Linked DNA regions of Homo sapiens. The protein of the gene in region 3 interacts with the protein of the main gene of each other region in a biochemical or structural test. Each region holds a gene or a part of one and is shown on either strand. Other genes may lie near its edges.

Region 1 (7,117 bases), on a different chromosome or scaffold from region 3:
CACCCAGACACTGTGACAGATAAAAGCAGTGATCAGTAATGGCAGTAGATGGGTGCTGAGCAGACTGGGCAGGTGCAGACTGTGGCCAGCGGGAAGCAGGCAATGGGAAGCACAGCCCATGTGAGATGCCTGCCCCTCCCAGCCCCAGCCAGGTGTTGCCAGGCAGAGACACACCAGGCCTGATGTGGCCAGACTTGAAGTATTAGCATCTGATTCAAATTTGAAAAACACTGAAAGAAAAAAAGGAAAAACAAAAACCCACCAGCCGTAGTCAACCTGCAGGTAGCTGCTCGCAATTCCTGCATACCTCAGAATAAGGGGTGCCATTCCCCTTCACTGTCCACCAGAAAGACTTGCCCATATAAACTATTCTATTAACAAAACATTAAATCCTCAAGTGATTTTTCCAGGATCAGAGCACTTAAGTGCTCTTTGAAAGATGACAAATTTAATCATTTTTTGTGGTACTATGAAAAGCAGGCCCTCTAAAAAATAAATTTATACTTAAAAAAAAAAAAAGGAATACAATTTTATTTTAACATGCAGAGCATGGGAGAATCACAGGAGAATGCTTATAACCCAGTGCAGTACAGAAGCTTATCTAATCTTTTTCATAGGGGAGGGGGAGGTGAGGAACGGGGCCATGCATTTGAAGGCAGTGCCTCGTAAGAGGGAGTGAAGGGACCTGGGCAGTGGGAGGCTGACATTACAGGAGGGGGAGGGGTGCAGCATTGGTGAACATTCTTTTGAACATGAACCTGAAAACTCACCGAAGGTGGGACTGTATTTCTACTTCTCTTCTGAGCTGATGCTCCACTCCGGCTTTCTCCAGCTGAGCTTTAAATAACACTTTAAGAGCCAGAATAAACTTGCTTTGCTTTTCTCTTGCCAAATAAACATTACCAAACTTTCCTTTACCCAGAGGGCGACCAATTTCAAAGTCTTCCAAAGCCCACTGCCTCCTAGGAGGAATTTGAACACTTTAGAATGTGAAGAAAACAAAGCTTTTCTAACAAATTTTCAATGAGTAGCAGACACATTCTACAAATAATTTCGTATTCCAACTTCACTCAATATGCATCCTCAGCAAGAACCAAGGCAATAACCACTATCAAAGAGCTGCCACGACATGAAACCCTGACGTCCCTAGCTGCCGTCAGGTGTGAGAGTCAGTGACAAGGAGCAGTCTCGGGTTTTAGACCTGAAGCACTCTATGGGAAATGTCCCAAGCCCGTACTATGCTCAGAGGAACAGGGCCATGACAACGCTGAAGACCACAAAAAGGATAAGTGACCAGAGAGGGAGGAATGCTTCCAGACCATCTGGGGGCATGTTTCAAACTAACCCCAGCTGCTCCCTCCAGTCCCAGAGGTGCTAATTCTCTCTGGGTGGAGAACCACTCTGGTGGTGGAGACAGAGCCACTGTTACTAATGGAAGCGGGATGGAGCCCACAGGCTAGCTGGGGCATGAGAACCAGTGGATTTAGACTCTTAGCCTCTGTTAGACCGCTAAAAGCAAAAGAGTCTGTGGGTTCATTCCTCGCTCCTCCCGGTACATTCTAGAGTCCAGATAGTTCAGAGACTGAGAGGAGGCTTTTAGAAAAGCCCTGGGGAAGACATTACAGCCAACCTTTACAATAAAGAACTAAAACTATAATACTGTCAAAACCCTCAGTCATATATGAGTATATAGTTCTGCAACATATTCTATTTTTTAAAAACTTGCACTTTTGTACAATAAAAAAGTACAGACGCATAAACCATATGTAGTGGTTATTTCTAAGGACAGAGAGGAACTTCCACACATTTCTATAAAAGATTCATACAAGCTTTTTCTAAATTTGAAAGCCATTTTTTAAAGCACTTGAGTTCCTAGTAAAATACCTCATTACACAAAATTCCATTTTTTTTAAGATTGGAAATCTGGAAACATTTATATCCTCTAAATGCAAATAAAGGCCTCATTTTTTTCCCCAGAGTTCCCACAACGAAATTTGCAACGAAATAATATATTCTAGTAGAACAGTACAGAACTTTGTAAATAAGAAAGCTTACTTTTTTGATTCTTCATTTTTCTGTTTTGATGCCAGTTCCTCCTCAGGATTATTTTCTATATGGAATAAGTTAAAAACCTGTTTTTAGAATAACTATATAGGATAAGCTAAGCTGTGAATAGAGGTGAATCAAAGAATTGGTCACCAAAATATTAATGGTATGTCAAGAATGATAAATCTGTTTTTTTTTTTTAAAGTTTTCCTTATAGAAAAAAAGGACTACTACACCCTGACTTCCATCATGTGAAGCCTTTATAGAATTTCTAAAGATGAGCAGACGTATATATAGACAGGCCCTTCTCTGATAAATTAAAGGCAGACTATGCAGGCTCTTCTGAAGCCTCAGTTTCCAAAGAAGAGCTTTTGTGGCAGAAGTACCAATCTTCCCATGCATGACGAGCTGCCAACTCGTCACCTTTTTCCCCTTACTAGGTGGGCCAGCCAACAGTCCATACCCTACATACGAATTATCACCAACATGTAGCAAAACATAAGCCAGCCACCCTCCATTTATATTAGCTGCCAAGGGGAAATATAAAAATAAAAGCCACCAATTCAGCAAAATGCACAATGAACAGTTGTGCAGCAGAGGACTGGGGTAACTATTTCATCAGCCACAAGGACATATGAAACATTTCCACTGGTCTGTCTCCAACATAGCAAACTCGAACAGCACACAATGCTCTGCTCAGATATCTGGATGCTGGTCCAAACTCTTCCTCCAGATGCCCCTGTCACATGTGCACCCCTCAACCCCCAGGACACTCACTCAATTAATATCAATCTAATCACCATCCCTAACTCCTCTTTATTCATCTTTCAGGTACAATTTATTGCCCAGTTCTAATGAGTCTGCATCGTAAATGAGCTCTCAAATTTGTGTGCACCTCTCCATCCTGGCTTGTCTTTGGATAAGTTAACTGCTTCTGAGTCTTAGCTTCCTCCTCTGTAAAACTGAGTTAATAACTGGCTACCTTCATGAAGTGGTTACGAAGATTGAAAGAGATGACGTGGATGAAGCACGCACTTATCTCAGAGCCTGCAGGGAATGAGCACTCAACAGTTGGTAAATAATTGCATCCACTCTGCTCCACACAGAGCAGGTTATTGCCATCTCTGACCTCAACCTCCTTCCTGTCTGGTACTCCTAAATCCAGCGTTCTACTCCAATTTATTCAGTACTTCCACAGTAAATTTTTTTTTTTTTTTTGAGATAGAATTTTGCTCTTGTTGCCCAGGCTAGAATGCAATGGCACAATCTCGGCTCACCACAACCTCCACCTCCTGGGTTCAAGCCATTCTCCTGCCTCAGCCTCCTGAGTAGCTGGGATTACAGGCGTGCACCACCACGCCTGGCTAATTTTGTATTTTTAGTAGAGACAGGGTTTCTCCATGTTGGTCAGACTGGTCTCCAACTCCTGACCTCAGGTGATCCACCTGCCTCGGTCTCCCAAAGCGCTGGGATTACAGGCGTGAGCCACTGCGCCTGGCCTTCCACAGTAAACTTTCTAAAAGGCAGAGTTCCCTTCTGAGTTCAAAAAAGCTTCAGTAGCTTCCAAATGCCCTAGAGATGAGGCCCCATTCCTTAACATGGCCAGCAATGCCCATGGTGACCTCACCGCAGCCTGCCTCAGTTCACCCACTTCTCTGGATTTCCCCCACACTTTAGATCTCAGTCCCTTCAAGTCACTTACTGCAAGCACCCTACATCCAGACTCAGTAACAAGCAATCAAAAGGACACCAATTTATGCTGTGTCCTCCCTGGGTGCCCAACTCTTCCAAGAGGGTGAGAATCAGGTCTGTATTTTTAGCATAGGTCTGGCCCATGGGCAGACACTGTTACTTCAACCCAGACACCATATTTTCTCCCCATCCTCAACAGATATAAAAGCTAAGGCTCCAAACAATAAGTGCAAGTATATACACTGGCTTTTTTAGCAACGACGACAAAGAAGGACTATCCAATGAGTCTCAAAAGCTAGTTTACCAGGTGCCGATGGCAGGGGCTGCTTGCTCTTTTGGGTGTTATTCAGTGGCCTGGAGACAGGATGAGGTACACTGGTTGCCTGCAATTGCTTCTGCTTCTGATTCTGAACCGGCTTGTGACTGGAGACAAGCTTTTGTGCTTGCAAAGGAATGCGCTGGGAAGAATTTGAAGGACACAAGACCCGCTGAGCCTGGCCACTATTTACAGGTAATGGATTCTGACAAGGAAATTGCTGAGTCACGAGAACACGTTTTGGACCTCCAACTGGAGCTGTAGCCTAGAATGGAAGAGAAAATAAACTTTCTGGCATTCATGAAAGCAAAAGATGAATATATTGAGAATTTCACAAAGTTTGTTCTCTAGTATAGCAAAATAATGAATGTCACTGATAAGAGATGGAAGGTGAAAAGGTATTTTAATCAGTACCTCCAGAGGATAGTTAGTATGTGGCTAAGAATACCTGAATGATACCTTCTATCCCCTCCAATTCCTCACCCCTAAAAATCATGCTTTATTAACAAATATCCATTAATGAAGGAGACACTTTCTAAAATTTCTCAATAATTTGGAAATAGACACTACATTGCTATTTGGCAAAAAGCTATGATACAAAAACTTTATGCCAAAATCTCAGTTCCATTGAAATTTCTTTGATAATATACGTTTAAGAAAAAGACCAAAAAAAAATACGTCAAAACGTTCAACAGTGGTATTATCTTCATGAAGTTTTAGAAGAGTCTAAGTTTTCATATATCGAAGATTTTCCACAATAAGCTTATTACTGTACTATTGATTAACCAATGTTTCATTTTCCAAGTATTGACAAAATGGAATTGAGCAAAAAACTGACAAAGAGGAAACAAATGTAGACACTTCACAAAGTTACTACTAAAATGTATTATTATTATTATTTTTGAGATGGAGTCTTGCTCTGTCACCCAGACTGGAGTGCAGTGGCATGATCTCGGCTCACTGCAACCTCTGCCTCCCAGGTTCAAGCAATTCTCTGCCTCAGCCTCCCAAGCAGCTGGGACGACAGGCGCCTGCCACCACGCCTGGCTAATTTTTTGTATTTTTAGTAGAAACAGGGTTTCACCATCTTGGCCAGGCCGGTCTTGAACTCCTGACCTTGTGATCCACTCTCCTTGGTCTCCCAAAGTGCTGGGATTACAGGCGTGAGCCACCGCGCCCAGCCTTGAAATGTATTATTTATACGCCTGTAAGTACTGTATTACAACCTTAAATTGTTAAGTTAACTCTAACACCCTCAGCTAATCAAACTAAAAGGGGTAGGAGGGATGAGATTTCCTTCAGCTTCAACAGCTCATTGTAAGTGAGGGACAAGTGCTAGAAATGAAAGCCTCAAAGTCCATCCCCAGCTCAACGGTATGAGTGCTCTACAAAGAGAGGGTGTTAAGACTTCCAAATACAAAGTCAGTTACTCCTGAAATTAGCACACTGTCCACAACGCAGCAGGCATTCAGACAAAGACAAATAAAAAGAAACATTTTAAATATAGAGCAATTTTTTAAATGGCCGTTATCATAGGAACTTAGAATCAAATACAGTAATTCAAGGTAGCCTTTTTCTAATTATTTTATATTTATGGCCAATTTTAAAAGTTTTGAACTCCTGCCAGATGCATTATTACTATTATCCTGCATACAGTGGAGGGATATAGAAACTTAAGCAGCCGATTATAAGACAAAGCAGAACAAAAAAGCTACTCTAAGAAGCAGCAAAATGTTACTGAACACGAGAAAAGTGACTAATTCATATCCAGGATCACAGTAAGGGATCTAAATTTAAATCCAAAGTAAAGGCGGAAAGAATTCCCGACAAGACCAACCTCCATGTGGGTTTATAAATGTGAATGAGATTACAGATTATTCAATTTACCTTAACAGGTCCTGAAATGCAGTTTTCTTTAGATCGGTCCATGATGCCTGAAAAGAAAAAGAAGAACCTTTAATTTGAACAAAGCCACCTGCTTAAAGTGCTGTTGCTCGATAGGCAGCGTTACAGTTCCCCAATCAAAAGGCCTCCACAACACACCGGATTTTACATGTTTTGTCCAAATGAAGCTAATGAGGGAGGGACAGGCATGTGCTTTCCCTGCAAGGCCAACCTCCCCTTGGGCACTGCGTCCCATCCTCTGTCACGGAGTCTTCACTCCTGATGGTCTTGCTGCTCCATCATCTCTCCTCTAATGGATCACTTCCATCCCTGTGCAGCCTACTGGCATACCTGCTACCTTAAAAAAGTCCTCTTTAGGCCGGGCATGGTGGCTTACACCTGTAATCCCAGCATTTTGGGAGGCCGAGGTGGGCGGATCACCTGAGGTCAAGAGTTCGAGACCAGCCTGGCCAACATGGTGAAACCCCGTCTCTACTAAAAATACAAAACTTAGCTGAGCGTGGTGGCAGTCACCTGTAATCCCAGCTACTCGGGAGGCTGAGGCAGGAGAATCACTTAAACCCAGGAAGCAGAGGTTGCAGTGAGCTGAGATCACACCATTGCACTCCAGCCTATGGGAAAAGAGCGAGACTTCGTCTCAAAACAATAAAATAAAATAAAAGTCCTCTTTATTCTATTATCGTTGCTAACAATGACCCCCTCCTCTCCAACAGCAAAGCTCCAGAAGAACCGTCCACACTTGCCACCTCTACTGCTCCTCTCCCCTCCCCTGAGCCCATCCCCACCTGGCTTTTTTGTCTCCACCACATTGTCAGGCTCATGGCTGACACCTACTGCTGCCAAACCCAAGGGTCAATTCCACCTTCCCCGTACTTGCATCCTCAGCAGAATCTGACAAGGTTGATCACATCTTACACTTTTTTCTTCACTTCACTTCCAGGTTTATCTACCACCTAGTCGTCCTGTCTTTCCCTCCTTGCTGGGTCAGTCTCATTTTTGCCAGATCAAGGGTCTGGGGTGACTCAAGAACGAGTCCCTGGACCCTCCACTTCTCCATCTACACCTTCACCAGGGATCCATATCACCCAGTGCCTCAGCTCTAAATGCCTTCATGAGGACCACTCAAAGTGCGTCTTCTGCCCTAGTCTCTCCTTGGAC
Region 2 (4,730 bases), on a different chromosome or scaffold from region 3:
AAATATTCCAAAGGGAAAGAAATAGGATTTTGTGATTTTTCTTTTGAATTGAGATATAACGGGTTTTTATTGGCAAGTGATCAGGGTGTGGAAGCTTGAAGCGATGTAGATTCAGAATACCTTGAGGCGCTTTTTCACACCCCCTTCTGCTGCACTCCTCAACTGTCAGCCTTACAACCAAGGTTCTGCTGTGTTCAGAATCACGGAAAACAGGTGAGCAGATCTGGAAAGCTTGTTTGGAAAGCTCCACAGAGACCGTGGTGGGTGTCCGGGCTCCAGTGTCCTAGACCCAGAGCTGAAAGGGAGGCTCACAATAGGGGACATCTCTTTCAGTCCCCACACTTTTCAGATTGAGAAGCCAAGGCTCAGAGGAATGATTGGCTCACAGTGGCTCACCCAGCGTGAGAGAGACCTAGTCAGGACGAGAACCAGAATTTTCCTGATTTATAACAGAAAGGATATGAGGCTTAGAATCAAAACTGTTTTTGGTCTCAGTTGAAAGCCTTAATTGGTTGTCTGATATTAAGCAACTTGTTTACATCTGATACTCAGTTTTCTTATTGGTAAAATGGAGTTGAAAATATCCACCATCCCACGGTTGTGAAAAGGATCAAATAAGGCATCGCATGAAGGTCCTAGGACACTTTGAGTTGGTATCTTTCCGGTCCTTTGCATGTCAAGTCCATAGAGAGAACTTCCAGGGAAATGAACAGTTCTTTTCAAAAGTGCCTTAAATATTGTGCTTTGTGGCTTTGTAACATTTTCTTTTTTCTGTCTTTTTAGGACAGCCCAGAAACTTGCAGGACCTGTGCCGAATTAAAATTCGACAATGTATAGGCCTTCAAAACCTAAAGCTACTTGATGAACTACCAATTGCCAAGGTCATGAAAGACTACTTAAAACACAAATTTGATGATATCTGATATGCCAGAACTGTGAGCAAGATTAGGAGTTCTATTCTAGATACTTAAAAGGCTTTTTGCCTTGCACAAAGTATATCCTATGCAATTTCTGATTTGCTGTGAAATCAGAAAGCAGGTATACACTTTTGGGTTTTCTGTTTGTTTGGTTGGTTTTCATTGTAGGGGAGGGATTTTTTATATATATATAAAAACACACACCACATGCTTGAAGGTCTTAATTTGGTTTCTTGGTCCAAGTTTAAGAGGTCCAAGCTTTGTATACAATACTGCATTTAGAAAAATTGTCTTTTCTTAAATGACACAAGCAGGTTTAGAGTGGAGAATTTACCCTTTCCAAATTTATGGTTCCTTGGTAAGCACGGTATTCTAAACCAGCAGAGCACTTGTTAACGTTTGGAGGCACAGTTTCACCCAGGGCGACCCTGGGTTCTTTTGGAAAATGCCCTAAGAAATGTTTGAAGTAACGCTGTCACCTCATTCATTTTTAATGAGTACAAACTGGCCGTTTCAAACTGTTCTTTTTCCTAATTAATGTAGCTTTCGGATGACATAAATCCAGTATCTCTGCTTATGACATAAATCCAGTACCTCTGCTTTTCTTTTGCTGTGCTCTTGTTTTTAACTTATTTTTTTTTTAACAACTGTAGTACACTACCCTGAGACACTGCATCTCGATTTCTATCTCTAGTTAGAGTTGTACTTTTAAAAAAATTAACGGGAAAGAAAATAACTTTGTGAAGCCAGTGTATTCTGTTTTTAAAACTGTGCCTGCAGTGCAATACTCCTTCTGGTGTATTTTATCCATTATTTCACTTGCTGGTCGTCATTTCACAGCCAGCTTTGACATGCCCGTGAGGACAGGAGCCGCCGCTTCAGTTGTCACTGCAGAGCCATCGTATGTCAGTTGCAATTTCCATCTGAAGCTATGTCTTTGACTTCACTTTAAGCAGAAAATTTTGTACCCTGGTGGTCGAGTCTTCCCTTAAAAATTGTTAAATCATTTGGCTTTAATGGTTCAATAATTTGGGGTGGCTTCATGGTGTTTCTTTTCTTCCCAGTTTAAAAAAAAAACTTTTTAAGCGTAAAATCTTTAAGGGGTACACATTTATAAGTCTGGCTAATTTCTAATATGCTAATTAAACATTTCCCATTTTAAGGTTATATACAGTGAGGCTCTTCAGGACAATTATTTTCTGGGTTGATTGGGCATATGTTTGCCGTGTAAACACGGATATGATAAAGTGTCAGTAACAATGGAAAAGGTCCCAGAGGCATTAGGCATCTAAGAGGATGCCCTCAGAAACGTATTCTGGCTTGATTTGTGTTATTAACTTCAGAAGAACCTTTTCAAATGTCCCAGTATCGTTCTTAGTGCTTTGGGAAAAAATATTTAACACACTGTTAATAAATTTGTTATCAGAAGTTTACAAGACGAAGGGCTTCTCTCGTCTGAATTTCTAGATTTAAGTCATGAAGTGTAAAACTGTTTCACCCAGAAGTGTAACTAAGCAGAACTAGGAGTTTTCTCTGGCTTCACCTTTTTCAGAGCCAGCAGTGCTGTTTTCTCAAGCACAGCGTTTGCTCTTAGACTCTGATCTGCTTGTGCCTAAGCATTGCACAGGTTTCCGAAGACGGGCAGCTTCAGAGAAGAGGATTATTCGGGAGATTGCTGGTGTGGCCCATAGACTCTTTGGCATAGACTCTTTCGCAGGCAGCCACTCTGAGTGTGGCCAGTTCTATAACCATCCCCAAACTAGCTGGAGCCTGATGGATAGGAACGGGTAGTCTGTCCTCTTCCCCATAAAAATGTTCCAAAAAGTTATCTCCAGAGAGAGTCCCTTATGAAGACAGTTGCCAAGCTGTATTCTCATTCTTTAAACCAATACCCAGGTCAGGGCTAGTTCACACTAGCACTGTTAGGGACATGGTGTGGCTAGAAATGAATTGAGTGTGACTTCTCCCTACAACCCCAGGCCCAGGGATAGGAGGAGGCAGAGGGGTGCCTGGAGTTTCTGCACTCTCATCAGTGATGTTCATGTTACACTTGCACAAGGGCTGATTTCCACGTATGTGTGTGTTAATTTATTCACTTAGTTTCAAAAGATTTTCTCTCCCCAGCCATTCAGAGGTTTCCAAACTAAGCCACTGAGTTTGAGTCAGGGAATTCCACGTAAAAAGATCAGATTAAGGTAAATTCTTTGTTCTGTATTGCTGCTGTGACTTCAGAAAAAAAAAATTATGAGAGCTCTTCCTGGAATTTTGAAATTTCTATTTAATGAAGAAGTGTATAATTCCATTATTTATTGTTTGAGGTTTGATTTATCTGGAAGCTTAAAAAGAATGTTTTATTTTTGTTGTTAATAAAATCCCAATCACATTTCACAATAACTAAAATGTCTCCAGGTGGGTTACTGGTAGATGATAGTGGTGACACCTGCAGGTCTGCATTTGAATTGGATTCACAGAGAAGCATTCCATGGTCACATAATGAATAGGGAGAACAGATATTTTCAGAAAAATCAACCGATTGTTTTTTCCAGAAACAGAACAGAAAATGTTCAGAATATTTTCAAATTTGTCAGATTCTTTTATGTTTCCTTTGAAATTTATTATTTAAGCCTATTACTAAACCTTTATAAAAATATATTTGGCAAATACACCAAAGAAACCAGCTTACAAAAGATTATGATCATTAATGAACTGCAAACCTCATCTTTCGAAAACAAGGTTTTGTGTTTTTTTTTTTTTGTAAATATTTGTGTTTATAAATGTACAGCAGAGTAAGAGTGTTTTTTAGATTATTTAATTCCCATATTTCTAAACTATTTACTACACAGTAATCCATGCCTGTTAGTTTGGAGGACTTGACTGTCTCATTTTTTAATTCATTGTCAGTCATGCTTGGAACAGCATTTCCACTAGAGAATCCAGCGTTCTGGCAGTAGCAAGAGTACACATCTGGAGCATGAGGGACTCTAGCATGACTCGTCAGATGCACACCCCAAGAGACAAGAATGTGTAGTTTAATGACCGGCGTGGACCATACGAAATTGAGATTCTAACTTTCCTGCAGGAGTGCTCATGAGCCCAGAATGTGATTGGGATAAGGCCATTTGCCCACAAATTTAGCTTTCATGTAACTCCTAGTGTGTTATATCATAATGTATTTTGTTCTTCCTTTTTAATGTAAGTTTTGCTTTGGGTCAATTTGAATTAAAAAAATCAAATCTGATTTAAAACATGTTGGAGTTGTATTTTATTTCCAGTCTACCTTAAGTTTTTAATATGTCCAGCTATTTGGTGAAAATAAATAAAACTCTATCCTTCCTTCATCAGCATTTTAGATCGCTGGGAGTTGTTTAAGAATATGATGATGTGGAAAACAATACCACTCTCCATTGTCACCAGATAAGCCATTTCTTACCCTCCTTTAATTTGTTCAATGCATTCTGCAAATACCCACCAACAAAAGATGATCACAGTGTTGAGTGTATCGACCCAGCACTGGGCCTTCTTGGGCCGTAATCGCCACCTGCCCCGTGCGTGCCACACCTTGACTCACGACAGGGTTTAGACCACAGCGCTTCTAAACGTAGGACAGCATGCAGTCAAAGCAATGCATCTGACGGAGTTACCCTGCAGGAGATGAAGCAAAACAACTTTGATTTCACATTTCCTCTATAAAACATAAGCACAGCTTGATTCAGGAGAGACCCGAAGTGAATGTGGATGATGGTGTGGCACTAAGAGAAAGGGAAGAGGGACTGCTTAGCACCCCGTGCAGAGATGGGATGGTTTGGAACTATA
Region 3 (7,096 bases):
CCTGATCTCTTTACCTAAAGAAATAGAAGGAATAACTGCTTTAAAATGCCCTTCTTCCTCAAGCCCATTTGTCACCCAGCAGAATTCAAGCTCCTCAGGGTGGGAAGAAATGGGATCCCCCTTCCCCTGCCCCAGGCTCCCCTCCTCTCTCCATCTTTCCATACAAAATTCAGGGCTGATGTGCATAACAGCTTGGAATCCCAGATGATGGCGGGGTAGGGAGACAGGATGGGCAAGGGAGGACCAGACTGACCTGGTAGGTCCTGGGACTGCCACTTTCCTGGGGGGCTGCAGATTGCTGCGAGTGGCACCCATGACAGGAAGATTTAGTCGCTGGGAAACAGGAACTTCATGGGGGTTAACAAAAGAAATGAGTTAGCAGCAAGTTTAACTGACCTCGAAAAGAAATACTGGATGAAGGGAGCGAGTGTGGGATTAGTACTCTCCCCCTGACCATGAGGTATTTGAAAACTAAGACTCAGACTCTGTCCAGCCCCATATCCTCTCTGTAACTCAGTCTCCCCATCTTCCAATTGAATTGCAATAAGGATGGCAAAAGTGGTCACTGTTGACAGCTCTGGGAGGGTGAGGACACGCTGGGCAAGGGCGGGCATTCTTCCTCCTGACCTCTTACCCTTGTGTCCACTTTCCCGCACTCTGTGTCCTGCAGTGCTTGGTCTTGGAAGCCCTTTTCGAGTTGACAGAGAATCCGGAGGTAGGGCACCTCTGCCAGGTGGCACACTCCGGCTGGTGAGTGGCATTCGGCTGGCAGGCCTGGGGATGGCCGAGGGAATGGGCAGTTGACTGGAAGATTTAGCAGCTGCTCCCTGCGGCCGGGGCAGGCGTTGAGAGTTGCTGGTAGAAGGCTGTGGGGCCAGGACGGATCTGATGGGGGTGGGTGGGCCTGGTGGAGAGGGGTGGAGAAATTTCAGGGTCAATCCCACAAACTCCCCACTCCCACTCACCCGCAACTTGGCTGCTCTGGTCTCCTCACTGGCTGCTGCTCTCCCACTGGGCCCGGCTCTCCCCCGGACTGGGGGAGTCGATCGGGTAAGAGGAGAAGATGCTGGGCTTTTGGATGCAGGGAACAGATTGCAAGTGGGTGACTCCTGAAACACAAAGAGAGAGAGAAAAAAGACTAGAGTGGAAAAAATATCTGTTCTGTGGCTTAAGGAATTAAGAAATAGAGGTGGAGAGTTGTCTACATCCCAGTAAGGAAGGGTAGAAGTTAGCTGCTAACATCACCACATCACCATCACCATCACTATTGCCAATACCATTTATTGAGTTTATCATAGACATATACTCAGACACTGTGGTAAGAGTTTTGGTTCTCTTTTTTCATGGTTCTCATTTAATTCCAACAATTCTAGATGTAGAAATGCTATCCCTGTTTTACCAATAAGGAAACCACTCCCTGCATCATGGCACACACCATGTCTGGGGCACACCTCCAACTCAACTCTCTCAACTCACCCTCTTCATGTTGGAGGGCCTCTTTCCAGATGTAGCCCGGAGAGCCCTGACTGACCCCTTCCTATCATTACTCCGGAGTCGAGGCGTCAGGCTGCTTGGGGAGGGGGTGCTCCGCGTCAAAGAGTTCACAGTGGGCAGCAGGTCTCGGACAGGACTATCCTTCAGCACAAAGGTCTCCCGCCGAGGACTGGGCTTCACTCGGCGAGGCCCCAGGCCCTCGCCTGCGCTCTCCCGATCCTGCAGGGCACACTGCTCCAGCTGAGCGGCCAGCCGGTTGGCCTCATCGAGGATCTCCTCCAGCTTCTCTGGACTGAGGGGGCCTAGGCTGAGCCTCACACCCTGGGGGGCAGGTGCCACTGCATTTGGGTCACTTCGGTGGGAGAGGCCCCGTCGAAGTGGTTTCTCTGGAGTCACCAACACTGTTATGTCTTCCTCCTCACGGCTGAGACAGGAAACAAACCAGGCATCATGCCCATGCAAAAGGGAACAGGAGATTATGCAAGGGAGACTGCATAAAAGCCCCACAACAGAGCCAGGGACATGACCCTAGGCCCCGATGCCCATGCTGGCTGTGAGATGTGGCCTCTGGGCGATGAGATACCTGGTTCTATGGGGCCTAATAGGCCTTTAGCATTTACGGACATCAGAAATGATGCCAGGATGGAGATGCAGCAAATCCACTTATCCTTCTTCTTAACACCCTGAAATCTAACTCCAGCTTCTCCCTTCTCTCCCCGCTACCAATAGTGTCATAGAGGCCCGAGTCAGCCAGCCGCCCAGCAGCCCCAAGTGCGCCAAACCTTGCTAAGTTACCAACCCAAGCCAATAATTCAGCAGTAAGGGATTCGAGACAAAGAGGTACTGTTAGAGGAAAATAAGTGGGATAAAGAGGCTGGTACCTGTCAGATGGTGACAGCCCCCCAAAGTCCAAGGTCTCATCCACAATAAACCTTACATCTGAAGGGGAAAGAAGAATGAAAGCCAGTCATGGGTCCCTGATGCAGCTCTCCATCGCTGGGTCTCACTCCTCCCTTTCATTCTTCCCTCCCTCCTTTCCTTACCTTCCTCCAAATCCTCCATGTCCAGCCAGCAGGAGCGAGAGTCCAGTTAGATCTGAGCTGGAGAGAAACCATACCTTTCCTCAGGTATCCATTCTGCCCAAGGCTCGCAGCTAGATTCAGGGTGCAAGCCAGGGTCGGGGGTCATGCTGGAGGCAAAGCAAGCGCCCAGGAGTGGCACCTCCCGCACAGCTACTCCTGCTACCTCCGGGAACGATACGGAGGGCTCCCCCAACTGCCCAGATTGCCCTGGAGCCGCCCTGCATCCTGGCCTCTCCTCACTGGGGGCGGCCTGCACGCCCCATCTTCCTCCCCGCCACTATCCTCAGGGTTCTGCACTCCCCAAGCCACCTTTCCACTCCCCTGGCATCACACGCGAAGCACACCTCCAGCCCACCCTGTGTCCACTTCCCGCGCCGCCTTATCTTCCACGCAACAGGCTTTCTCCCGCAACCTAGTCCCGGGAATCAGCTCCGAGGGGGCGGGGCTCCTTTCGAATCTCTCAGGCCCCACCTACTCAAGCCACACGCGCACCGTGATTGGTGAATCCTCAGGGGGAGGGGCTGAGGAGCTGCCGGCCGGAAGTCAGCCGGTGGGGGCTGGGGGAGAACCGTTCCCAGAAGACTGCATCCCGGTGGCGGAGCCGAGGGTTGAGGCTGCGAGTGCGCGTGCTCGCGTGCGCGGAGACTCTCTTTCCCGTAGGCAGATGGGAGCAGAGCGCGGCTGGCCAGGAGGGAAGAAACGGACCCACGAGTATGGAACTCGCGCCCCGCCCCGCTCCCTCTGCTGGGCCGCCGAGCACCCAGTCTCCAGAACGGTTGTGCTGCCTAACGTGGCCGCTAACCGACGCTCTACGGGAGGAAATTCGTTTTCTTGGGCGCACTCAATATGCAGGCGCCGCATTGGCCGAGGTTCCTCAGTTGTGGGTTTTTTCCAAGTTAAGGGAGCACCTAAACACTTATATTGTAGGTATATTGAGGTTCTCTTAGAAGTACATCCTCCATCGCCTCTTCAAGAACCTGAGGCAGCTGAGGTGCAAAGAAAGCAACGGGCTTTTCACGCAGGCAGGCTTAGGTTCAAATGCAACCCAAGTTTAACTGACCTCAGAACCCAAGTTTCGGTTTAGAGGCGGCTGCCTTGAGTATATTTGCCCTCTTTTCACCTCTCTTCGCTTATCTGTGAAAGGAGGATGTTGGTCCTCGCAGTTACGGTGTTACGAGGATAATTATGAAGGCGTTTTCTACCGTGTGCCCTTAGGGGATTTAGAGGGGGTGTTTGTAAGTAGCCCCCTCTGAACTAAAAGCAGTATTTGTAAAATGCTTAAACCAACTTGTTAGGAGTGTTGTCTCTGTTGTTTCTAAATGTTGCCCGGGCCACCAGTGAACTTGTCAGAGGCTTCAAACCAGAACGACTCCATCTGGAATAGAGGCTGGGTAAAATAAGGTTGAGACCTGGGCTGTATTCCTAGGAGGTTAGGCATTCTAAGTCACAGGATGAGATAGGAGGTTGGCACAAGATACAGGTCACAAAGACCCTGGTGGTAAAACAGCATGCGGTAAAGAAGCCAGCCAAAACCTACCGAAACCAAGATGGCGATGAAACTGACCTCTGGAGGTCCTCAGTCCTCATTATACGCTAATTATAATGTATTAGCATGCTAAAAGACACTCCAGACAGCATCACCACGGTTTACAAATACCATGGCAACATCAGGAAATTACCCTACATGGTCTAAAAAGGGGAGGAATTCTTAGTTCCAGGGAGTTGCCTACCCCTTTCCCGGAAAACTCATGAATAATTCATCCCTTGTTTAGCATATAATCAAGAAATAACCATAAAAATGGCCAACCAGCAGCCCTCCGGGCTGCTCTGCCTCTGGAGTAGGCATTCTTTATCCCTTTTCTTTCTTAATAAACTTGCTTTCACTTTATGGACTTGCCCTGAATTATTTCCTATGCAAGGGCCAAGAACCCTCTCTTGGGGTCTGGATCCGGACCCCTTTCTGGTAACAACAGGAGGAGACAGCAGGTCCGCACAAGATACAGATCTCAAACATCCCTCTAATAAAACGGTGCAGTAAAGAAGCCGGCCAAATCTGCCAGAAACCAAGATGGTAAAGAAAGTAGGCCAGGCGCGGTGGCTCACGCCTGTAGTCCCAGCACTTTGGGAGGCCGAGGCGGGCGAATCACGAGGTCAGGAGATCCAGACCATCCTGGCTAACACGGTGAAACCCCGTCTGTACTAAAAATACAAAAAATTAGCCGGGCGTGGTGGCGGGCCCCTGTAGCCCCAACTACTCGGGAGGCTGAGGCAGGAGAATGGCGTGAACTTGGGAGGCAGAGCTTGCAGTGAGCCGAGATCGCACCTCCGCACTCCAGCCTGGGCGACAGAGTGAGACTCCGTCTCAAAAAAAAAAAAAAAGAAAGTGACAGCTGGTCATCCTCACTGCTTATTATATGCTAGTTGTAATTCATTAGCATGCTAAAAGACACTCCTGCCAGCGTCCTGACAGTTTACAAATGCTATGGCAACGTCTATATGGTATAAAAGGGAGAGGAGCCTTCAGTTCCAGGAAATCATGCTCCTTTCCCAGAAAACCTATGAATAATCCACCCCTTGTTTAGCATATAATCAAGAAATAACCATAAAAATAGCTTACCAGCAGCCCTTGGGGCTGCTCTATGGAGTAGCCATTCTTTTATTCCTTTACTTTCTTAATAAATTCACTTTCACTTTACTCTGTGGACCCGTCCTGAATTCTTTCTTTTGAAAGATCAAAGAATCCTCACTTGGGGTCTGGATGGATCAAGACCCCTTTCCAGTAATAAACTGAGCTCCTAGAAAGGTTCTGAATATTTAAAGTGAAAAAGCCCTAAGGGAATGGTTGAGGAGCTTTCTGGTAAACAGAACCTGAGCTTTAGTCCTCAGAGTTCATGCCCATTTTTTTGGCCATTTATAGGCTTTCTTGTTTACTTTCTAGTTTTTGGCTGTGACGTTGAGGTGGTGAGGTCTGCAGGAGTGAGATGTCACTGTAATAAATGCCACCAGAGACCAAGAAGCTGGAAACCAAAAATAAAATTCTAAGCCCCCCAACCAACTGAATGGACCCCTTCTCTCTGACAAGGGCATTCCAGATTTAACCTGGAAAACTAGTTCAGGCCATAATGGAAAGTGGGGGTTGGACATGCCTCATTATACTCTCTGCCCTTTGGGAATCAGGCACAGCTGACCAACATTAACATTAAAACAGAGATCTGGCCAGGGGGCGGTGGCTCACGCCTGTAATCCCAGCCCTTTGGGAGGCCGAGGCAGGCAGATCATCTGAGGTCGGGAGTTCAAGACCAGCCTGGCCAACGTGGTGAAACACCATCTCTACTAAAAGTACAAAAAAATTAGCCGGGCATGGTGGTAGGCACCTGTAATCCCAGCTACTTGGGAGACTGAGGCAGGAGAATCGCTTGAACCCAGGAGGCGGGGGTCGCAGTGAGCTATCACGCCACTGCACTCCAGTCTGGGTGACAGAACGAGACACTGTCTCAAAAACAAAAAAAACAAACAACAACAATAACAACAACAAAACCACAAAGATCTTAAGGCTAAGGAAACAGACTTTTTTTTTTTTTTTTTTTTTTGAGATGGAGTCTCACTTTGTTGCCCAGGCTGGAGTGCGGTGGTGCAATCTCAGCTCATTGCAACCTCTGCCTCCTGAGTTCAAGCGATTCTCCCGTCTCAGCCTCCCGAGTAGCTGGAATTACAGGCACACGCCACCAAGCCCAGCTAATTTTTGTATTTTTAGTAGAGATGGTGTTTCGCCATGGCCGTGAACTGCCTCAGGTGATCCGCCCACCTTGGCCTCCCAAAGTGCTGGGATTACAGGGATGAACCACCACGCTTGGCCAGAAACAGACTTTTTGTAGCAATAATATTACTGGAAAGGGGTCCCAATCCAGACCCCAAGTGAGGGTTCTTGGATCTCACACGAGAAAGAATTCAAGGCGAGTCCATAAAGTGAAAGCAAGTTGATTAAGAAAGTAAAGGAATAAAGAATGGCTACTCCATAGGCAGAGCAGCCCGAGGGCTGGTGGTTGCCCATTTTTATGATTATTTCTTGATGATATGCTAAACAAGGGGTGGATTATTCATGCCTCCTTTTTTTAGACCATATAGGGTAACTTCTGGATGTTGCCATGGCATTTGTAAACTGTCATGGTGCTAGTGGGAGTGTAGCAGTGAGGTCACTCTCATCATCGTCTTGGTTTTGGTGGGTTTTAGCCGGCTTCTTTACTGCAACTTGTTTCATCAGCAAGGTCTTTATGACCTGTATCTTGTGCTGACCTCCTTAGGATCTCATCTTGTTACTTAGAATTCCTGTCTGGGAATGCAGCCCAGTAGGTCTCAGCCTTATTTAACCAGCCCCTATTCAAGATGGAATTGCTCTGGTCGAAACGCCTCTGACAATAAGACGCCAAATTCCAGCCTGATTCTAGTATAGTATCACATGACAGACAGTAGGCCCTGAAAGAAATTAAAGTATTTTACCTCAAAATATATTTTTCTTTTCT

What was found.
Region 1: of the proteins of PSRC1 (region 3) and AURKA, one has a biochemical effect on the other in vitro, tested with the Homo sapiens proteins (one study listed by BioGRID).
Region 2: of the proteins of PSRC1 (region 3) and ASB7, one has a biochemical effect on the other in vitro, tested with the Homo sapiens proteins (2 studies listed by BioGRID, with this or other methods).

What each region holds. Positions count from the first base shown.
Region 1 is NC_000020.11:56,382,215-56,389,331, forward strand, and holds part of AURKA (aurora kinase A), read right to left. Parts: intron 6,571-7,117; exon of another isoform or gene 6,195-6,570; coding exon of another isoform or gene 6,098-6,194; intron 5,989-6,097; coding exon of another isoform or gene 5,984-5,988; coding exon 5,942-5,983; intron 4,320-5,941; coding exon 4,043-4,319; intron 2,111-4,042; coding exon 2,056-2,110; intron 963-2,055; coding exon 771-962; intron 1-770. UniProt on the Homo sapiens protein: Mitotic serine/threonine kinase that contributes to the regulation of cell cycle progression.
Region 2 is NC_000015.10:100,647,540-100,652,269, forward strand, and holds the end of ASB7 (ankyrin repeat and SOCS box protein 7), read left to right. Parts: intron 1-783; coding exon 784-923; 3' UTR 924-4,162; downstream 4,163-4,730. UniProt on the Homo sapiens protein: Probable substrate-recognition component of a SCF-like ECS (Elongin-Cullin-SOCS-box protein) E3 ubiquitin-protein ligase complex which mediates the ubiquitination and subsequent proteasomal degradation of target proteins.
Region 3 is NC_000001.11:109,280,143-109,287,238, forward strand, and holds the start of PSRC1 (proline/serine-rich coiled-coil protein 1), read right to left. Parts: upstream 3,004-7,096; 5' UTR 2,921-3,003; exon of another isoform or gene 2,595-2,920; 5' UTR 2,557-2,594; coding exon 2,538-2,556; intron 2,434-2,537; coding exon 2,376-2,433; intron 1,919-2,375; coding exon 1,477-1,918; intron 1,110-1,476; coding exon 995-1,109; coding exon of another isoform or gene 905-994; coding exon 635-904; intron 348-634; coding exon 254-347; intron 15-253; coding exon 11-14; coding exon of another isoform or gene 1-10. UniProt on the Homo sapiens protein: Required for normal progression through mitosis. Required for normal congress of chromosomes at the metaphase plate, and for normal rate of chromosomal segregation during anaphase. Plays a role in the regulation of mitotic spindle dynamics.